3 linked regions of the Homo sapiens genome follow. The protein of the gene in region 1 interacts with the protein of each later gene in a pairwise test. Each region holds a gene or a part of one and is shown in the gene's direction. Other genes may lie near its edges.

The links.
Region 2: the proteins of CMTM7 (region 1) and TMEM106C interact in binary tests that used the Homo sapiens proteins (3 or more experiments, as listed by UniProt).
Region 3: the proteins of CMTM7 (region 1) and THAP4 interact in binary tests that used the Homo sapiens proteins (3 or more experiments, as listed by UniProt).

The regions. Positions count from the first base shown.
Region 1 is NC_000003.12:32,386,456-32,395,595, forward strand, and holds the start of CMTM7 (CKLF-like MARVEL transmembrane domain-containing protein 7), read left to right. Parts: upstream 1-5,397; 5' UTR 5,398-5,451; coding exon 5,452-5,610; intron 5,611-9,140.
Region 2 is NC_000012.12:47,965,886-47,969,655, forward strand, and holds the end of TMEM106C (transmembrane protein 106C), read left to right. Parts: coding exon 1-112; intron 113-203; coding exon 204-344; intron 345-797; coding exon 798-847; intron 848-1,322; coding exon 1,323-1,376; intron 1,377-2,247; coding exon 2,248-2,344; 3' UTR 2,345-2,993; downstream 2,994-3,770.
Region 3 is NC_000002.12:241,598,882-241,606,868, reverse strand, and holds part of THAP4 (peroxynitrite isomerase THAP4), read left to right. Parts: intron 1-395; coding exon 396-555; intron 556-3,789; coding exon 3,790-3,899; intron 3,900-4,869; coding exon 4,870-4,973; coding exon of another isoform or gene 4,974-5,054; intron 5,055-7,987. UniProt on the Homo sapiens protein: Heme-binding protein able to scavenge peroxynitrite and to protect free L-tyrosine against peroxynitrite-mediated nitration, by acting as a peroxynitrite isomerase that converts peroxynitrite to nitrate.

The DNA.
Region 1 (9,140 bases):
CATCTCAAAAATAAATAAATAAATAAATAAATAAATAAATAAATAAACAAACAAATAAAGAAATTCACTGGAAAAGGATTTTAAAGGCTGATATTGGAAGAGTTTCATGGACACCTGATGCCTTTGTCTGCCTGGCATAGCTCAGACTTCCTAACAAAATGCCATGGCCAGGTGGCTTAAACACCAGAAATTTATTTTCTCAGAGTTCTAGAGTCTGGGGAGTACAAGATCAAGGTGCTGATCGATTTGGTTCCTGTTGAGGGCTCTCTTCCTAGCTTGCAGAAAGCTACCTTCTCGTTGTATTCTCACATGGTGGAGAGAATGCCAGCAGGTTCTCTGGTGTCTTTTTTATAAGGACACCAATCCCCCCCTGAGGGCCCCACCCTCATGATCTCACCTAAGTCTAACTATTGCCCACAGGCCCCATCTCCAAATGTCATCACATTGGGCGTTAAGTCTTCAACTTTTAAATGATGGGGGGACACAAACATTCAGTGCATAACACTGCCTAATATTCACTCCGCTTTCTGATACTCGCACCCTGGTTTTCCTTTTGGGAACCACCCCTTCCTCACTCAGCTCCTGTGGTTCTACTGGGCTGAACCTATCCCACCCCCAGCTTCATGGGTAGGTAGAACTTGACCTGGCCACCAAAAATGTTCCACTCCTCTGGCCATAGTAATTCGTTGAAAGATGGAACCATGACCCATATTTGGACTAATGAGAGATAGTGCCTATTATGGACTGAATTGTGTGTCCTCCCTGCCCCAAATACATAGGTGGCAGCCTTACCCCCAAGTGTGACTGTATTTGGAGATGGACTCTTTGGGGAGATAATATGGTTAAATGAGGTCATAAGAGTGGGGCCAGAATCCAATAGGACTGGTGTCCCTTTAGGAAGAGACACCAGAGATCTCTCTCTCTCTTTCCATGTACACAGAGAAAAGGCCATGTGTGGACACAGCAAGAAGGTGGCCATCTAAAGTCATGAAGAGAGGCCTCACCAGAAACCAGCCCTGATGGCAACTGGATTTTGAACTTCTAGTCTCCAGAATTGTGAGAAGTGAATTCTTGTTGAGAAGCCACCCAGTATGTGATATTTTGTTATGGCAGCCTAAGACAGTACCAGAGCCACTGGAAAAGACAGGCTGAAATAACGAAGGCAGGATTATTGTGTAAGCCTGAGCTGTCAGAGCTCATGAGAGGGCCTGCCTGAAAAGCCAACACAGAGCAGAGTGAAGCCAGGAGATGGAGGTCCTGACTGTGCCTGAGGAGCACCTGGATCCAGCCATGCCTGAAGTGGGTGTATACCTCTGCATATCACAGTTACTCAAGCCAATGAATTATTTTGTTTTGCTTTTTATTAGTTTGTTTGTTTGTTTTTGAGACAAGGTCTCACTCTGTTGCCCAGGCTGGAGTGTAGTGGCACGATTATGGCTCACTGTAACATTGAACTCTTGGGCTCAAGTGATCTTCCCCCCGCTCAGCTTCTTAAGTTGCTTGGACTACACATCTGGCCAATTTTTTCATTTTTTGTAGAGATGGGGGTCTCACTATGCTGCCCAGGCTGGTCACAAAATCCTGGCCTCAAATGATCCTCCTGCCTCGGCCTTCCAAAATATTGGGATTATAGGCATGAGCCACCGTGCCAAGCCTATTTTGTTTTTTGTTTTGTTTTGTTTTTAAAGACAGGGTCTTGCTATGTTGCCCAGGCTGGCCTGGAACTTCAGGGCTCAAGAAATCTTCCTACCCCAGTCTCCTGAGTAGCTGGGACTACAGGCATGCACCACTGCTCCCAGCTTGAATGAACTCTTCTTTTTGCTTGATTTTAGTTTGTCTCATCAAAAGCACTGTGACTAATACAGAGTCAACTCTAATTTTATTACTTTTTTCATTATATCTGATCAGATATAACATCATAAACACACTGGTGAAGAAGAGTTATAGTCAGAGTACCACTCGAATTGAAGCTTTAAACTGTCAATAAGCCACCTGCAATCCCTCGGTGTAGAGAAAAGGAGAACTTGGACATCTTGATTTCTCACCAGGTATTCAGAGGTCACCTACCTGGTTGGTTCCCTCTTAGAGTGTGACATCTTTAAAGTGGGCTATGAAGCCCTTTGCCTAAGACCTTGCTTTCCCAAGGGGCAGCTATTCACATCTAGCAGACAACACACTAGTGTAGACATCTCAGTGCACTTGGCAAGCCTCTGAAGCCTCTTCTTGTAAGTCAGGCCAGCAATGGCCCTTGCACTGGCAAGCATCTTGCTCAAGCTCTTAAGTGATCATAATAAAGTGATTAACACAGAGTGCCCAGCACAGTGATTACTTCTGATTAGAGGTGGGTGGTGCATTAGTCAACACCAGGCAGAAAAGCCCAGCAATGTTTCTGAGCAGACTCAGGAAGAGATAGTTGTTCTCAAACTTGAGTATGCATCAGAATCACAGAATGATGGTGAAGGGGGGTGGGGAGTGAGGGTGGGGTTGGGAAGACTTGTTAAGACACACACTGCTGAGCCCTACCCCTAGAGTTTCTGATTCAGCAGGTCAGAGTGGGCCCCTAGAATCTGCATTTCTCACAAGTTCGCAGGTACTGCTGGTTGGGGGGCTATACACTGAAAATCACTGTTAGAAGACTGCTGAATTGGACAAAGGCCCCTCAAAGGAGAAATGATCCAGCACTTGGTTTTTCTGCTTCCCTGAAACCCTCATCTCAACAAAGATGCCCTGTTATCTCCACTGTGGGTCCTGAAGCCTTAGACAAGTACAGAAGTGAAATGTACATCTACATAAAAAAATGATACACAGTACTAACTTCATGCCTGTGGGTATAGAGCCAGAAATGTCACAGCACACCTGCATATCTATCACATTGTCACAGCAGCCCCTAGATGCAATTATTCCTGAATTACAGAGAAACAAATGGAGGTACCAGGCAGCTGTGACTGTTGTCTACAGAGAAGACACACGTGGAAGGCAATTTTTCTTGGTCATGAAAATTGTCAAATGTACATAAAGGTGAAATAAATAGTGTAATAAATCCCCAAATGTTTCAACTGCAGTGGACTCTGGCAATGACAGTGGTTCTCAAATTTGAGTGTGCATCAGAATCACCTAAGAGACTTGCCAAAACAGATATTGCATGGGTATCATCCACCAACAAGAATTATTAGGACTTTGCCACATCGAAAACTCTTCTGATGACAAGACAGCACTGGCAGGGAATAAACTCACAAAGATAGTTTTATGTTTCACTTTGCTTTGTTTTGTTCTTGAGGCAGGGTCTTGCTCTGTCACCCAGCCTGGAGTACAGTGTTGTAATCATGACTCACTGCAGCTTCAACCTCCCGGGCTCAAGCAATCCTCCCACCTCAGCCTCCTGAGTAGCTGGGACTACAGGCATGTGCCACCATGCCCAGTTAATTTTTGTATTTTTTTGTAGAGATGGGGTTTCTCCATGTTGCCCTTGCTGGTGTCAAACTTGGGCTTGTGAGCTTGATTTTGGGATTACAGACATGAGCCACCGTGCCCAGCCAGATTTTTTGATGTTATCTCCAAATGAATAAATGTAAGTATGGCCACAGGGACACTGCTCAAAAGGAACATGATAACATACCTCGTTTTGGTAGTCCCGTTTGGGCCTGTCTTCATTTTTATGTTTTTTTCCTTTTCTTTTTCTTTTTCTTTTTTTAAGAGACAGTGTCTCACTCTGTCACCCAGACAAGAGTGCGGTGGCAAGATCATAGCTCACTGCAATCTCGGACTCCTGGCCTCCAGGGATCTTCATGCCTTGACTTCCCAAAGTGCTGGGATTATAGGTGTGAGCCACCACGCCTGGCCTCTTCATTTTTAAAACAACCCAAAAGGGATACAGAATAGAATGTCACTTGGATAGCTGTTTGACAGCTTTTTCTTTTTCTTGTCTTTTTTTTTTTTTTTAATTGAGACAAGGTCTTGCTCTGTGGCCCAGGCTGGAGTGCAATGCCACTGTCATGGCTCACTGCAGCCTCAACCTCCTGGGCTCCAAGGCTCCTCCAGACTCAGCCTCCTGAACAGGCATGTGCCACTGCACCCAGCTAATTTATTTATTTATTTATTTTTATTTTTATTTTTATTTTGAGACAGAGTCTCGCTCTGTCGCCCAGGCTCGAATGCAGTGGCGCAAGCTCTGCTCACTGCAAGCTCCGCCTCCCGGGTTCACGCCATTCTCAGCATCCCGAGTAGCTGTGACTGCAGGCGCCCGCCACCACGCCCAGCTAATTTTTTGTATTTTTAGTAGAGACGGGGTTTCACCGTGTTAGCCAGAATGGTCTCGATCTCCTGACCTCGTGATCCGCCCGCCTCGGCCTCCCAAAGTGCTGGAATTACAGGCGTGAGCCACCGCGCCCGGCCCAGCTAATTTATTTTTATTTTTTGTTTTTTGTAGAAATGAGGTCTGGCCATGTTCCCCAGGCTGACAGCTTCTAACAGAAGCAAACATATGCTCCCCTTGTAACCAGTGCGTTCACTTGCAGATATTTGTCCCAGAGAAATGAGAGTTTGTATCCACCAAAAAAACGTGTACCATAATAGTGACTATAGCCAGAAAAGAGATGAGGGAGGGGGGAAAGGCCGGAAGGAGGGAAGGAGGCAGGCAAGCAGGTAGGAAGGAAGCAAGCTTGGTGTCCATCAACTGGGTAAACGTTTAAAAAATACGGTATCTTTGCACAGTGGAGTACTACTCAGCAATAAAAAGGAAGGAACTGATATGAACTACTTATATTCCCAACAGGATGGATCTTCTAATTTGTTATGTTGAAGGAGAATATTCTGTATTACTTCAAGTTTATGAAGTCCAAGAACAGGCAAAATGAACCTACAGTGACAGAAAGCAGAATACACTGTAGTGGTTGCCTGAGGCTGGATAAGGATGGGGCCAGGGAAGGAAGGTAGGTCAGGAAGGCCCACCACGGAACTTTCTGGGGTGATGGGCACGTTCTATTTGTTGATCTGGGCGACGGTTACACAGGTGTACACATATATAAAAATTAGTGGAGCTGAACACGTAAGGTCTGGGCATCACACTTTATGTAAGTTAAACTTCAGTAAAGTGCTCTCAGCACACATCCGCAGCCGCACCCACACAAAATCCCAGGAGGCTCAGTACCAGCTGTGGTCCGGGCCTTGCCCACCTCGGAGAGGCCACGACCCAAGGCATCCGGTTTCCTCTCGCTCCAGTCTAACTTCCGCGCATCTACGAGGGCCGGGACTGCCGCTACCTTTCTGGAAGGCGCCGGCCGGCCAGTCACCGGAGGGATCCCGCCAGAGGCGGCTCCGCGTCTCCAGCAGCGGGGCAGGGACCCGGGCGCCCCGCCCTCGCCAGCGCCCGCCCCCGCCCGCCCCCGGCCCGCCCTCTGTATCTGGCCCCTGGGCAGCTGCCCGGGGAGGCGGCCAGCGAGCTGGGGCCGCGCAATGTCGCACGGAGCCGGGCTCGTCCGCACCACGTGCAGCAGCGGCAGCGCGCTCGGACCCGGGGCCGGCGCGGCCCAGCCCAGCGCGAGCCCCTTGGAGGGGCTGCTGGACCTCAGCTACCCCCGCACCCACGCGGCCCTGCTGAAAGTGGCGCAAATGGTAAGTGAGCGCGGGGCGCGAGGCCGAGGTTCTACAGGGCGTCCCGGGAAAGCAGGGGTCCGGGAGCGGACGCGCCGGGCGTCTGGACCCGGCCGGAGCCCAGGGAGCATCGCGCAGCGGGCGGGGCACCGCGTCGCTAAAGTTCGCGGCAGGCTTCCTCCGGGAAAGTTGCTGCCGCAGCCCCCGCGCTGGAGCTCAGTCCCCAGAGCCGCCCCGGCCCTTGCTCCCGCGGACCCAGGTCGCCAGGGTCGCAAGTTTCTCCGGCCACCCCCCTGCGAAGCCTGACCCGCCTACTGACTGAAACCACGGGCAAAGTTCCTTTTCGTCTTTCTTCCTCTTCTCTGGGCCGCGCCGCTTCGAACCCGAGCCGGGGGTGGAAGAGTCGCCCAGGCGGCGGCGCTGAGGGAGCGAAACCCGACCTCTTCCCCGTCCACGGCCTCCTCTTTCCTCCGAACCCAGCGCGGCAGGGCTTCCCTGCTCTGTGTGCAGTTTCGCTCGAAGGAGGAGGTCAGAGGGTCTTGTGTTCCATAGTGGGGAAAAAGAACTGGGACCGTTGAGACGGCCGTCCTGGTCCCCTGCGCCCTCAAGTTCCGAGGGAGGGCCCGGGTCTCAGGGGGCTCTGGAGGGCAGGGGGTCAGTTGGGAAAGGCCTGTTGTCAGGGGCTGGTACTCATGTAGGGGAGCCAGACTGTTGAATGGGAGTCACCCGTGGAGCCAGGCAGGATGAGTGTCTGGGCTTGGATTGTGACCAACTCAGCACAAGGGCCTCCTACCAGGGCAGACGTTGCCTGGCCGATTCTCTTGTTCCCCACTCTTTTCTTTTCTCCCCTCCCGTTTTTTTCTTCTTTAAAAGTTTGTAATCTGAAACAACTTTTCCGTTTGTATGATGTGTTTTGAAACTGGGTTGGGCTGTTTGTGAGTCTCCACCATTGTAATGTTTGCACCAAGAACGGTGGGGAGGGGAGCGGTAAGTTTCAAAAAGAGGTGTGGGGAAAGGAGTGTGGGGCTGGACAAGGTCACACACCCAGAAGCTGGGGCCTGCTAAGGTGGCCTGGCCCCAGGGGGTTGGGCACAGGACGTCTGTGCATCTATAGCACTGCCATTCCAGACACTGAGTGTGCATGAGGTGGCCCTCATGTCTTGCTTGGGCCAGACCTAAAGAGAAGGGGCGCTGAGTTCCTGCCTCCCTAAGAACGGTGTCTAGATAGACCAAAAACTAGGAAGAGCCATTTCAGCAACGTACAAAAAAATCTGGTGCTGAGCATTGTTGGGTTTGAGCAGGGCATTTTTTGGCCCAGGCTAAGAGATTTGATCAGCCAAATAGAAGAGACCAGCCCATCTCACCATCCTTAAAAGATGGGCTGGGGTGAGACATATCCTACCTGAGCATTGGAAGGGATGAGTTTGGTAGACAGAGAATGGGATCAGAAGCCTCCATCTTGGCCCCTGAGTTTGCTGGACAAAGATATTGTGGGATGAAAAGTCTTCTTGTTGGTCTATGAGTTTGGTACACAAACATAATGGAGATGAAACCTCGGCAACATAGCGAGACCCCATCTCTACAAAAAAAATTTTAAAACCTTGTGTGGTTGGCATGGGCCTCTAGTCCCAGTTACTTGGGAGGCTGAGGTGAGAGGATTGATTGAACTGAGAAGGTCAGTGAACTGTGCCACTGCACTAGTCTGCGTGACGGAGGGAGGCCTGTCTCAAAAAAAAAAAAAAAAAAAGGTACAAAGAAAAGGTAATGGAGATGAGAAGCCTTCATGTGGTCCATGATTTTGATGAATAAAGATACTGGGAGATGAGAAATCTCCATCTCATCTTAAGCTCCTCAGCTAGCCTCTGGCCTGTGGTCCTTGGGCCAATTTGCAAGTGGCAAGAGTGGGGCCTGTTGTTCCAAAAAAGAGAACAAAGACTTGAATAATTTCTTTATCTGGTTGCTTATTCTCTATGTGCTCCTCTTAAAACCATGCTGAGGAGTCTTACACCTGCCCTGGAGGATTCCCCATCACTGCTGCAGGCTTGTTTGATCAGACCCTCTGGGAGCAAAGTTGCCCTTGCAGGATGGCTGTATTAGTCCTAGTTAGGGCTATCTACTTGGGCCTCTTATCTAACTCCTCCCTATTTTCCCACTTCTCCTCTTTTCTAAGACTCTGCTTGGGCATTTGAGGTTCATTTGTCTTCTTTGCTGGAAAATGCTTGTTTAGCCAAGTTTTAACATTGGGGAAGGGCAGAAGCAGCTAAATTAATGCCACCCATTGGGGCTTTCTTTCTATGGGTCTCTCATTTTGACCATCAGTTTCTCAGTTTCATACTGAACAGGTTGACCCTTTTGTCCTCAGCTTCTCATGAAATGTTTTCATCATGATCTGATCAATAGATCTGCCAACACGTTGTCTTAAGAAATCATTGCAAAGGCTGTTCCACTGGAGAATGACTTCCCTTGTCTTGGCCTCTTCTGGGTCCACCATTACTAGAAAATGAGTTTCTGAGTGAATGTGTGTACTTGACATGTCATTTATACATGTGTAATTTTTATAATCCTCTGGCCATGATAATTCAGTTTCTTTGGTCTTCCTTTTTGGAGTAGAGACACAGTCACAGGTTTTGACTTTTGACTTTAAAGCACTCTTTTTTTTCTTTCTTTCTTGAGAGGGAGTCTTGCTCTGTCACCAGGCTGGAGTGCAGTGGAACGATCTCAGCTCACTGCAACCTCTGCCTCCCGAGTTCAATCAAATCTCCTGTCTCAGCCTCACGAGTAGCTGGGACTACAGGCACGTGCCACCACACCCAGCTAATTTTTGTATTTTTAGTAGAGATGGGGTTTCACCATGTTGGCCAGGATGGTCTTGATCTCTTGACCTCATGATCCGCCCCCGCCTCTGCCTCCCAAAGCGCTGGTATTACAGGTGTGAGCTGCCGCGCTCGGCTAAATGACTTTTTTTTTTTTGAGCGAGACAGAGAGGGTCTTGCTCTGTCACCCAGGCTGGAGGACAGTGGTGTTATCATGGCTTACTGCAGCCTTAACCTCCTGGGCTCGGCGATTGTCCCACCTCAGCCTCCCGAGTAGCTGGGACTATAGGCACCCACCACGATGCCCAGCTAAATTTTGTATTTTTTGATACAGACGGGGTTTTGCTATGTTGCCCAGACTGGTCTTGAACTTAGAGATTCAAGGGATCTGTCCACCTCGGCCTCCCCAAGTGCTGGGATTACAGGTGAGCCACTGCGCCTGCATGAGACTCTTTTTTTTAATAGCTATTTTTTTTTAGCCCTATTATTGTTCTAGTAATTACATACTATATACCATGTGTGTATAATCTCATTAAATGTTTCTAAGAATCCAGTGAAGTAACATGTTTGATAGATAAGGAAACGGGCTAAAGAGTTAAAGAGACACTAAAGTCACACAGCTCTTAGCAGTAGTGGTGGAACCGATCCAGGCCTAATGGCCTGATCTCCAAAACTCATAACTCTGGCAGAGTTGTTGCTTGTTAATAGTTCTAGGGATATAAAAGCCACAGTGAGATA
Region 2 (3,770 bases), on another chromosome or scaffold:
TTTGGTGGTTTTCTTCCTGTTTCCGCATTCAGTCCTTGTGGATGATGACGGCATCAAAGTGGTGAAAGTCACATTTAATAAGCAAGACTCCCTTGTAATTCTCACCATCATGGTAAGCCTTAGGGTTTCATTCCCTGGGTTGTGCACCTGCCAGGCTGGGACCCAGGACACTTACACTTGTTTCCTGACTTGCCCTGATGTAGGCCACCCTGAAAATCAGGAACTCCAACTTCTACACGGTGGCAGTGACCAGCCTGTCCAGCCAGATTCAGTACATGAACACAGTGGTCAGTACATATGTGACTACTAACGTCTCCCTTATTCCACCTCGGAGTGAGCAACTGGTATGCTGTTCTTTTAGGAATCTTGCCCCACAGGCCTAAGAGAAGAGTAGGGGGCTGTAGGAATGCCATAGCTGTGTCACTTTCCTTTTTGTCTCCTCATTTCTACTTGTAGGAACTGGTGATGAGGAAGACCTGTTGGGCCCTGTAATTATAAATAATTGTGAGAAAAAACAGCTATCATTTAAGCATTTGGGGAGCAGAATAATTTGTAAGAGACAAAGATTTGCTACAAAATAAGAAGCAGCAGTGTTACAGCCTGAGGTCCATTGGCCTCTCAAAAGGGAAGAGGTTGGCAGTATCAATTAGAGGCTCATAGACTATATTAGGGACAATCTCAGGGAAGTATTTTGCATGTGATGGAAGAATGACCCAAGGTCTTTGGATTGCTAATAATAATACTGTTCTGTGTCAAGCCTGCTTGGCCACAGACCAACTCTGGTATCTTATTTTCAGGTGAATTTTACCGGGAAGGCCGAGATGGGAGGACCGTTTTCCTATGTGTAGTAAGGACACTGTTCTCTCTGTGTGTGCTCTCTACTGGAGGAAAGGGATTCAAAGTCATACTCCATTGATTGGGGCCTGGTCCTGCCTTAGATCTCAGCTTTTGACTTATAGGTTCCCTGGCTTTGGATGTCTTGAGATTTATTTGAAGAATGTATTATTATTATGTGTGTATTTGAAGAATGTATTATTTGATATGTGACAGAAGTGCTGGAATTTCTAAAAGAGAACATTAAGCCACTAAAAACGTTACCAAGCTCCAGCACTTATGTGATGGGTTTGAAAAAACAGAAAGTGGTATGACGCTGTGGGAGGATGAAAATGACAGTGGCAGGGACTGAGAGCTGACAAGCCTTGGCAGCACTTAGGTCGGAAGGGGGAGGGGGGCACCCCAAACAGGACAGTGTAACTCTGCACTCTTCTACTGAGGCTTTAAAAAAAAAAAAACTGACTATTTCCATATTTGCTGTTTGGTAGCTTCTTCTGCACGGTACCTGAGATCCTGGTGCACAACATAGTGATCTTCATGCGGTGCGTCTCTCTTCCCTATCCCGATGGCCTGTCCGGCCATGTGAGCCTACCACCTTTGCTCAGGAGGCCCCTGTGTGACCACAGGGCAGAGGCACCTAGCCCGAGGGGACACCCTGTGCCTCACAGGCACAGATACAGTAGACCCTTGGTGTTCTCTAAACACAGTGTCCACATGCCCTTCACAAATCACCAGTCACCCTGAGCAGTCAAACATTTTCTCCATAAAATGGGTCTAGTTTAACTAAACACTTGATCCCCTCAGAATCCTAATGAGACAGTCATGAACAGAAAAGCTTTCTCAAGATGTTAAGTACTGGGCATTTGACCAGACTTCCTCTCTAGCCACACAAATTACCACATGTCATGGACCTTTAGGGTTGTTTTCTGGAAGCATGGCTGTTAAATTTGCAAGTGACAAGACTCTGCTGCAGACATGAAATATGAGGGGTTAGAGCAGAGTTTCTCAGCCTTGGCACTACGAACATTTTGGGCCAGACCTTTGTTGTAGGGGGCTGTTCTGTGCATTATAGGATGTTTAACAGTATTCCTGGCATCTGCCCACTAGATCCCAGTAGTAAACCCTCCATCCCTTAGTTGTGACAACCCAGAATGTCTTCAGGCATTGCCAGAAGTCTCCTGTGGGGTAAAATCATTCTCGATTGAGAAGCCTTGTTTGGAAGGCCACCTCCTGGCACAGTATCTCTGTGAAAGTGGAAAGATCTTCTGGCCTCCTGGTTACATAACCATGAGGATATGTGCCTGGGGCCCGTGGGTATTGTTCTCTGAACTTGCAAAAAATTTCCTGGGACATTTTTCTGGCTTATTTCATCCCCCAAACATAATTAATTCTTCTTGGTTTTCTTTTCCCTAGAACTTCAGTGAAGATTTCATACATTGGCCTCATGACCCAGAGCTCCTTGGAGACACATCACTATGTGGATTGTGGAGGAAATTCCACAGCTATTTAACAACTGCTATTGGTTCTTCCACACAGCGCCTGTAGAAGAGAGCACAGCATATGTTCCCAAGGCCTGAGTTCTGGACCTACCCCCACGTGGTGTAAGCAGAGGAGGAATTGGTTCACTTAACTCCCAGCAAACATCCTCCTGCCACTTAGGAGGAAACACCTCCCTATGGTACCATTTATGTTTCTCAGAACCAGCAGAATCAGTGCCTAGCCTGTGCCCAGCAAATAGTTGGCACTCAATAAAGATTTGCAGAATTTAATACAGATCTTTTCAGCTGTTCTTAGGGCATTATAAATGGAAATCATAACGTGGTTCTAGGTTATCAAACCATGGAGTGATGTGGAGCTAGGATTGTGAGTGACCTGCAGGCCATTATCAGTGCCTCATCTGTGCAGAAGTGGCAGCAGAGAGGGACCATCCAAATACCTAAGAGAAAACAGACCTAGTCAGGATATGAATTTGTTTCAGCTGTTCCCAAAGGCCTGGGAGCTTTTTGAAAAGAAAGAAAAAAGTGTGTTGGCTTTTTTTTTTTTTAGAAAGTTAGAATTGTTTTTACCAAGAGTCTATGTGGGGCTTGATTCACCCTTCATCCATTGGCTGGAACATGGATTGGGGATTTGATAGAAAAATAAACCCTGCTTTTGATTCATCTGTGTCTCCTCTGATTGCCTGGGTGTTTTGTAGGGATCTCTGGGGGAACCGTAGAATAGTTCCCTTCCAAGTGGGTCAGGATGGAATAGGAGGAAAGAGACTGCACCCTGATTGTACTCCCGTTCCCATGAGTTCCTGTCACAGCAAGCAGCCTCATTTTCTTCCATCTGCCTCTTGCGGCAGGGGGCTACCCTGTTCCCTTCCAGGACAGAGCACTCAGTGCCCCATGGAGGTTGGAATTCAGTCTTGAATAAGACATCCTGGTTTGAGGTTGTAAGTTTCTTGGGTCATCTCCACCTGCTCTGCCACCAGAGGTTAGGCTACAGCCCCAGGATGGCAGAGAATCTAGTTAAGAAGCTTGAGTAGTCAGGTGTTAGAAGTCAGCTCTTCCCATAGCACTGGGACCTCAGGAAACCCTAACAACAACAGGTGGTGGCTGGGGTTGTATATTAGTTTTTGTCTCCATTCCCATAGCTTGGTTTTCAATATTTGCTTAATGATCTGTATAGTCTTGAATCTTCAAACTAAAGCTAAATTTCATGACTGTTGGGCTGACTTCGACCATAACGGAGGAACCCAGAAGCTGAGGCTTAAGTTTTGGTGTTGTCCTGGATCATGTAGTGACACAGGTACATGACAGTGATGACTGATGTGGATTGATGATAGGACATCACCACTTACACGGAAGCAAATGTGCACCGTTTCTGAGCATGCTGCCCTAATCAGAACATGCCCTAAACACATGAAGATGTTCACGTTGCTACATTTGCTCTTT
Region 3 (7,987 bases), on another chromosome or scaffold:
CAAGGAAGCTGTTAGTATGTGGTTCTCATATTCTTAACTGTACAAGAAAGCAAAAGCCCCTTGAGGTCCCTCAGTATCCCTTCCCACCACCTGCACCCCACAGGTGGAGAAATTGCCTGCTTTTAGGGAGATAGCAGTGTAGGCCTCTTTGCTTGCGCCCTGCCTGGCCCCTGTTGGATCTCTTTTCTCTGCAGGAACTGCAGAGGCTTCTGAAGCTGGATCTTTCACTATGACATTTACAGTTGCTTGACCATTTTCTCCCGCTCTTGACAGGTCCCCCAGGATTAGCTGTGGCCACCAGAAGCAAGCGTCGATATGGAACGTGCATTCTGCTTAAAGCTCAGCAAGGCATGGTTGGAGGGAGGCCACTGATAGTCTCATTCTTTTGTCCTCAGAGCCCCCCAAGATGAACCCAGTGGTGGAGCCACTGTCCTGGATGCTGGGCACCTGGCTGTCGGACCCACCTGGAGCCGGGACCTACCCCACACTGCAGCCCTTCCAGTACCTGGAGGAGGTTCACATCTCCCACGTGGGCCAGCCCATGCTGAACTTCTCGTAAGTTGTCTCCCTCCACCCCACCCTGCTTGACTCATGGGCCGCCTAGGTCTCTGAAAATAATTCCAGACTGATCAAAGACAAAGGCCAAGCAGGAAGGTGTAAAAGGAACTTGTCCATCTATTTCAGAAAGGTGTCCTCTTGCCTGAATGTGCAACTGAGACACAGAGTGGTAAAAATGATACTTTCTGGTTCTGTTATATTTTTGGAGATATTAAGCTGACCACCAAATTACAGGCTTGTTAATCCAAACATAAAAACAAATGCATGTACTTAATTTATGTATCAAAATTAATCACCCTGGCCAGTGCGGTAGCTCATACCTGTAATCCCAGCACTTTAGAGGCTGAGTCAGGAGGATTGCTTGAGCTTAGGAATTGAAGACCAGCCTGGGCAACATAGTGAGACCTTGTCTCTACTGAAAAGTATTTAGCCAGGTGTGGTGACACATGCCTGTAGTCCCAGCTACTCGAGAAACTGAGGTGGGAGGATTGCTTGAACCCAGGGAGGGCCAAGGCTACAGTGAGCTGTGATCATAACACTGTACTCCAGCCTGGGTGACAGAGTGAGAACCTGTCTCAAAAAAAAAAAGAAAAAAATTAGTCACCCAATATTACTGAAAATAATAGTGCATGTTTGTATTTTACACGTACCCCTGAGCTATTTGGGGTCACAAGGAAGCTGTTAGTATGTGGTTCTCATATTCTTACCGTACAAGAAAGCAAAAGCCCCTTGAGGTCCCTCAGTATCCCTTCCCACCACCTGCTCCCCACAGGTGGAGAAATTGCCTGCTTTTAGGGAGATAGCAGTGTAGGCCTCTGAAGTAGAGGAGAGCCACCAGGGATGGGGAGTGGTTGAAGTATCTTTATTTTTTAATTATAGAAGTAATACACAGTTTTTTTAAAGTTTAAACAAAATATAAAAAGCAAACCCTCCCTTAGTCTCCATTACACAACTATATGTTAAGAATCTTATTAAACCAACTTGGTACTATTTGTATAATGCCTAGCAGTTTCAGAACGGGGCTGGGCACCTGGCTCTCAGACCCCCAGCTCTGAGACCCTCCATCCCCTTTTAGAAGATCTCATTGTTTTTAAAAATATCTCCTACCTTTTTATATTATTATTGATTGAATGCATGAGGTCAAAGTAATACATCTGCACATAAACCAAAAGGTGAGAATTCTGGGTAATACAAAATAACCCAGAACCCAAGCAGTCTTTTTTAAACTATAGATTATAACCCACGAAAAGGTCAGAAAGTCAATTTTGTGACTAGCATTCGAAGAAAAATGAACCAGAGTGGAAAATATATTTCAGTAAATGTGATGGTATGTGTGTTTGTGTGTGTGTCCTAGAATATGGTATAAATGTATTTCTTTGTCGGGGTTATGTTAGTGAGCATGTACCATTCTAGAAGGTGTAGCACCATCACTAGCCCAACAGAAATTTATCTTGGCCCAGCGCGGTGGCTCGTGCCTGTAATCCCAGCACTTTGGGAGGCCAAGGCGGGTGGATCACTTGAGTCCAGGAGTCCAAGACCAGCCTGGGCAACACAGTGAGACCCTAAAAAAATTTGTTTTAATAAATAAATAAGTTTATCTTGGCCAGGTGCGGTGGCTGACGCCTGTAATCCCAGCACTTTGGGAGGTCAAGGCAGGTGGATCACTAGAAGTCAAGAGTTCGAGACCAGCCTGGCCAATGTGGTGAAATTGTGTCTCTACTAAAAAAAAATACAAAAATACAAAAATTAGCCGGGTGTGTGGCTGGGCACAGTGGCTCACACCTGTAATCCCAGCACTTTGAGAGGCTGAGGTGGGCAGATCACCTGAGGTTGGGAGTTCAAGATCAGCCTGACCAACATGGAGAAACCTGGTCTCTACTAAAATTACAAAATTAGCCGGGCATGGTGGCGCATGCCTGTAATCCCAGCTACTCGGTAAGGCTGAGGCAGGAGAATCGCTTGAACTCAGGAGGCGGAGGTTGCAGTGAGCCAAGATAGCGCCATTGCACTCCAGCCTGGGCAACAAGAGAGAAACTCTGTCTCAAAAAATAAATAAATAAATAAATAAATAAATTAGCCGGGTGTGGTGGGCGCCTGTAATCCCAGCTACTCAGGAGGCTGAGACAGGAGAATCATTTCAACCCAGGAAGCGGAGGTTTCACTGAGCTGAGACCGCGACGAGCCTGGGTGACAGAGCAAAAAAATAAATAAATAAAGTTTATCTCTAAGAATCATAGAGATGGATTCCCTATAGAAACTCATAAGGTTGGTGAAATGATAAATGAGGCTTTTTTTTTTTTGGTTTGGTTTTTTTGTTTTTATTTTTGTAGAAACAGGGTCTGTGTTGCCCAGCCCTGTCTCAAATTCCTAGGCTCAAGAGATCTACCCGACTGGGCCCCTGAAGTGCTGGGATTACGGCCTTGAGTCACCATGCCAGCGAGTTAGTTTTTAAGCCGTGGTTTTGTGCCCTCAGTTCAAGATGCAGGTGCCTGTCTTTTACTGTTGAGAATTTGCACTAATGATGAAGGGTGATAAGAAACCATACCATAACTCAGCACCTGTTCTGTTTTTTACCGTAGGAATTGATTAGATTCTTACACAAGAGCATAGCTCAAAAGAGAAAGATTGTGTTAGGGTGAGGTTTACTGCAAGGGAGTGCTGAGGGCTGACACTGTGTGAGGCCTGGGCTAACGGGCCCAGGGCAAGGATATGCCCTGAGGTGATTAAGAACAGTGCTGTCTTCAGGAGCTGAGGGTCAGCAGGCAAGACAGACACAGCCAAAATGAGCAAGGTGGTGGAGGGGGCGGGCAGGTGTGCGGGTGTGGCTGGAACAGCCCGTCTTCAGGAGCTGAGGGTCAGCAGGTAAGACAGACACAGCCAAAATGAGCAAGGCGCTGGAGGGGGCGGGCAGGTGTGCGGGTGTGGCTGGAACAGCCCGTCTTCAGGAGCTGAGGGTCAGCAGGCAAGACAGACACAGCCAAAATGAGCAAGGTGGTGGAGGGGGCGGGCAGGTGTGTGGGCGTGGCTGGAACAGCCCGTCTTCAGGAGTGGAGGGTCAGCAGGTAAGACAGACACAGCCAAAATGAGCAAGGTGGTGGTAGGGGCAGACAGGTGTGCGGGTGTGGCTGGAGCAGCCACCTGGAGGGCACCCTGGACAGTTCTGGCATCCACGCAGCCCACGCCATCTTGGAGGCCAGTGCCTGGGCTTCTCAACTCCAACTTCCCGTCCAGGTTCAACTCCTTCCACCCGGACACGCGCAAGCCGATGCACAGAGAGTGTGGCTTCATTCGCCTCAAGCCCGACACCAACAAGGTGGCCTTTGTCAGCGCCCAGAACACAGGTGAGGCCCAGCTTGCGGGGCGGGAGGGCTGGCCATGGGAGGCTGCTGCCTGCATTCGAAGCAGGGGTGCAGGGATGCCCATGTGCAACCCTGCTGAGGCATGTGCTGGTGGGGACCGTGGGGATGGCCCTGAGTGTTGAGAGTGGTCCTGGGAGCCTGCGGGGCCGACTGTGTAGCTGTAGGGGCCTCCGGCACACAGGTTGTGTGCGTGCAGCCCCCTGACCATGAGGGCCCGTTTACCCAGTGCCACGTCTGCAGAAATGGCCATCAGCTGTGTGCATTCATTAGGAATTGCTGGAAAACAGGTTGGGCACAGTGGCTCACGCCTGTAATCCCAGCACTTTGGGAGGCCTAGGTGGGCAGATCACTTGAGGTCAGGAGTTCAAGACCAGCCTGGCCAACATACTGAAATCCCGTCTCTACTAAAAATACAAAAATTAGCTGGGTGTGGTGGTGCATGCCTGTAATCCCAAGCCACTTGGGAGGCTGAGGCAGGAGAATCACTTGAACCTGGGAGGCAGAGGTTGCGGTGAGCCAAGAATGCGCCACTGCACTCCAGCCTGGGCAACAGAGCGAGATTCTGTCTCAAAAAAAAAAGAAAAAAAAAAAAACCAGCCTGCGTGACTCTAGATCAGTGTTTCTTCCTGGACGTCCATTCCCACCTGCGACTTCTGCCACTGTATGTGCTAGGGGTGGTTCTGCCAGGCTGATTGGTGGGTGGAGGTGGGAGGGCTGGGGCCCAGTCTGGAGAGGGTGGCCTTCCATAGAGCACCTGCCTGTTCTGTGAGGAGAGTTGTGGCTTTCCCTCCGTATCCACAGGGTGAAGTGGGGAGGAGGAGAAATATCGTTGCTTCCACAGCTGCAGAGTTGGGGCCTCCTGTGGAGTCCCGGCTTGCAGGCAAGGAGAGTCAAGGCTGCCTCTCTGCAAGCCGAGCAGCTGCTGGGTGAGCTGACTGCCCTTCCCTTGCAGGCGTGGTGGAAGTGGAGGAGGGCGAGGTGAACGGGCAGGAGCTGTGCATCGCATCCCACTCCATCGCCAGGATCTCCTTCGCCAAGGAGCCCCACGTAGAGCAGGTGAGCCCAGCCCTGCTCCCAGCACGCTCCTGTCTTCTGTTTGCAGCGGTCTGTGGAGTCAGCCTCTTCCTCTTCCGTGAGGTAGTGCGTGTCTTGCCACTGTGTCTCACAGGCCTGTCTTCACTGTCTCCTTCTTTTCCCTTCTCGGACCATCCAGGGTGGATGTTCCCTAAATTCATTGCCCCCTCCTCGGCTGGTCAGTGGTGTGGTTTTTTTGAGGTTTGTTGTTTGTCACAAACATCCTTTTGCATTTGGGTTGTCCACGTTTACAGATATATCCATATCTATTGATAAATTTTTCCCAGTTAAATTGCTGGATCAAAGGACAGGTACATTTTAAATTTGATACACACTGTTAGATTGTATTTCTTCATGATTATCCTCCCACTATCTCTTGCATGAGGGCAGCTGGTTCCCTACTCCTTAACAACATGGTGTATTTTCAGAATTTCGGTCCTTTCAAATCTGAGAAATAAAAGATGAAATCTCACTCATGTTTTGAATCTAACTTAGAAGCAGGAGGGCTCATTCCCCATGCTCACTGGCTGTTTACGCTTCTTATTCTGTGCACTTGATATTTAAAGTCTTTGCCTGTTTTTCTGTGGATTGTTCTTTTTTGAGGCGGAGTTTCGCTCTGTTGCCCAGGCTGGAATGCAAAGGTGGGATCTCGGCTCATCGCAACCACCGCCTCTCAGGTTCAAGCGATTCTCCTGCCTCGGCCTCCTGGGTAGCTGGGATTACAGGCATGCGCCACCACGCCTGGCTAATTTTGTATTATTAGTAGAGACAGGGTTTCTCCATGTTGGTCAGGCTGGTCTTGAATTCCTGACTTCAGGTGATCCACCCGCCTCAGCCTCCCAAAGTGCTGGGATTACAGGTATGAACAACCGTGCCCGGCCAGATTGTCCTTTTTTTTTTTTAAAGATTTGTAGGAGCTTTCTGTATGCCATGGGTTAATCTGTTGTCTGCTTTATTTGTGACACATACTTCCCTAGTCTGTGGCCTGGTCCATGATGGGCTGTGCCCCACAGGTGCTCAGCTTTCCTGTTGTTGCCTCTGGGCTGTTTCCTTTACAATGTCTGGATTTGGGTTCTTGCTAAGGAAGTTGTTGTCCACTCCAAAATGATAAAAATATTCTCTCATTTTCTTTCTTTTTTTTTTTTTTTTTGAGACGGAGTCTCACTCTGTCACCCAGGCTGGAGTGCAGTGGAGCAATCTCGGCTCACTGCATGTTCTGCCTCCTGGGTTCACGCCATTCTCCTGCCTCAGCCTCCCGAGTAGCTGGGACTACAGGTGCCCGCCACCACACCCAGATCATTTTTTTGTGTTTTTAGTAGAGACGGGGTTTCGCTGTGTTAGCCAGGATGGTCTCGATCTCCTGACCTTGTGATCCACCTGCCTCGGCCTCCCAAAGTGCTAGGATTACAGGCGTGAGCCACCGCGCCCAGCCTGTTCTTTCATTTCTTGTATTCTTACAGCTTTCCTTTTTACATTACCACCTAGACCTTTAATCTCTCTCACATTTGTTTTTTGAGTGACGCAGCGTATAATTCTAACTCTTCCAGATGAGTGACCCAGTAGTCCCAACACCATTCATCGAATTCCATCCTGACTCCACAGATTTGGAATGTCATACATACATTAAAGCACATCCACATAAATATAGGGGTCTGTTTCTTTTTTTCTTTTTTCCTTTTTTTGAGAAGGAGTCTTGCTCTGTTGCCCAGGCTGGAGTGCAGTGGCACAATCTCAGCTCACTGTAGCCTCCACCTCTCGGGTTCAGGTGATTCTCCTGCCTCAGCCTCCCGAGTAGCTGGGATTACAGGCATGTGCCACCATGCCCAGCTAATTTTTGTATTTTTAGTAGCCATGTTGACCAGGCTGGTCACAAACTCCTGACCTCAAGTGATCCGCCTGCCTCAGCCTCCCAAGTGCTGGGATTACAGGCATGAGCCACTGTGCCCAGCCTCGTTTGTCTTTCTTCGTCTGCTTGTCCACTTCCTTACCAGTAACACATTTTTAGCTCTCACAGCTGTATATTACATGTTAATGTCTAAGGGAACGTTTCCCACATTTTTTCTCCAAATTTTCTTACTCATTCTTAAGCATTTCCTCTTCTAGATGAACTTTTGAATAAACATCTCAAGGCTTATAAAATGTACATCAAGACTGCATTGAATACATGAATGAATTTGGGTAGAATTGACATATTTTCATGGGTAGCAATATGCAGCGTGACAGTGTATTACGGTGACTTTAGGTCATGTTTTGTGTATTTTAGTATATAGAAAAGCTTTATTTCTTTATAGTTTTAATTATACAGGTCTTGTACATTTCATGTTAGGGTAAACTCAAGTGTTTTATCATTTTTGTTGCTTGTAAATAGATTTTTTCCCATTTAATCTTCAGATTGATTATTGATAATTGTGTGGACACTTCTGATTTCTCTGTGTTGAACTGGGCCACTGGTGTAACTTTCAGACAGCCAGGATCTTAGGCACAGCATGGATAGAACAACAGGCGTGAATGTTTGTTGCATGCTTGTCCCTGACTCTAGTGGAAATAGTTCTGTGTGTCACCACCTGTAAGATGCTCACTGTAGATTACTTACTGGTAGATAAGAAGGTAGCTTTTTTTTTTTTTTGAGACAGAGTCTCAATCTGTTGCCCAGGCTGGAATGCAGTGGCACGATCTCAGCTCACTGCAACCTCCGCCTCCTGAGTTCAAGCGATTCTCATGCCTCAGCCTCCCAAGTAGCTGGGGTTACAGGCATGCACCACCACACCCAGCTAATTTTTGTATTTTTAGTACAGATGGGGTTTCACCATGTTGGCCAGGCTGGTCTTGAATTCCTGATCTCAAGTGACCCACCCGGCTCAGCTTCCTAAAGTGTTGGGATTGGGCATGAGCCACTGCGCCCAGCCGGATAGCCTTTTTTTTAGTTGTAAAATTTTTCTACTTTTTTTTTTTTCCAGTGCAGGTGCGTATCTTGGTAAAGGCAGTCTTTTTCAGGT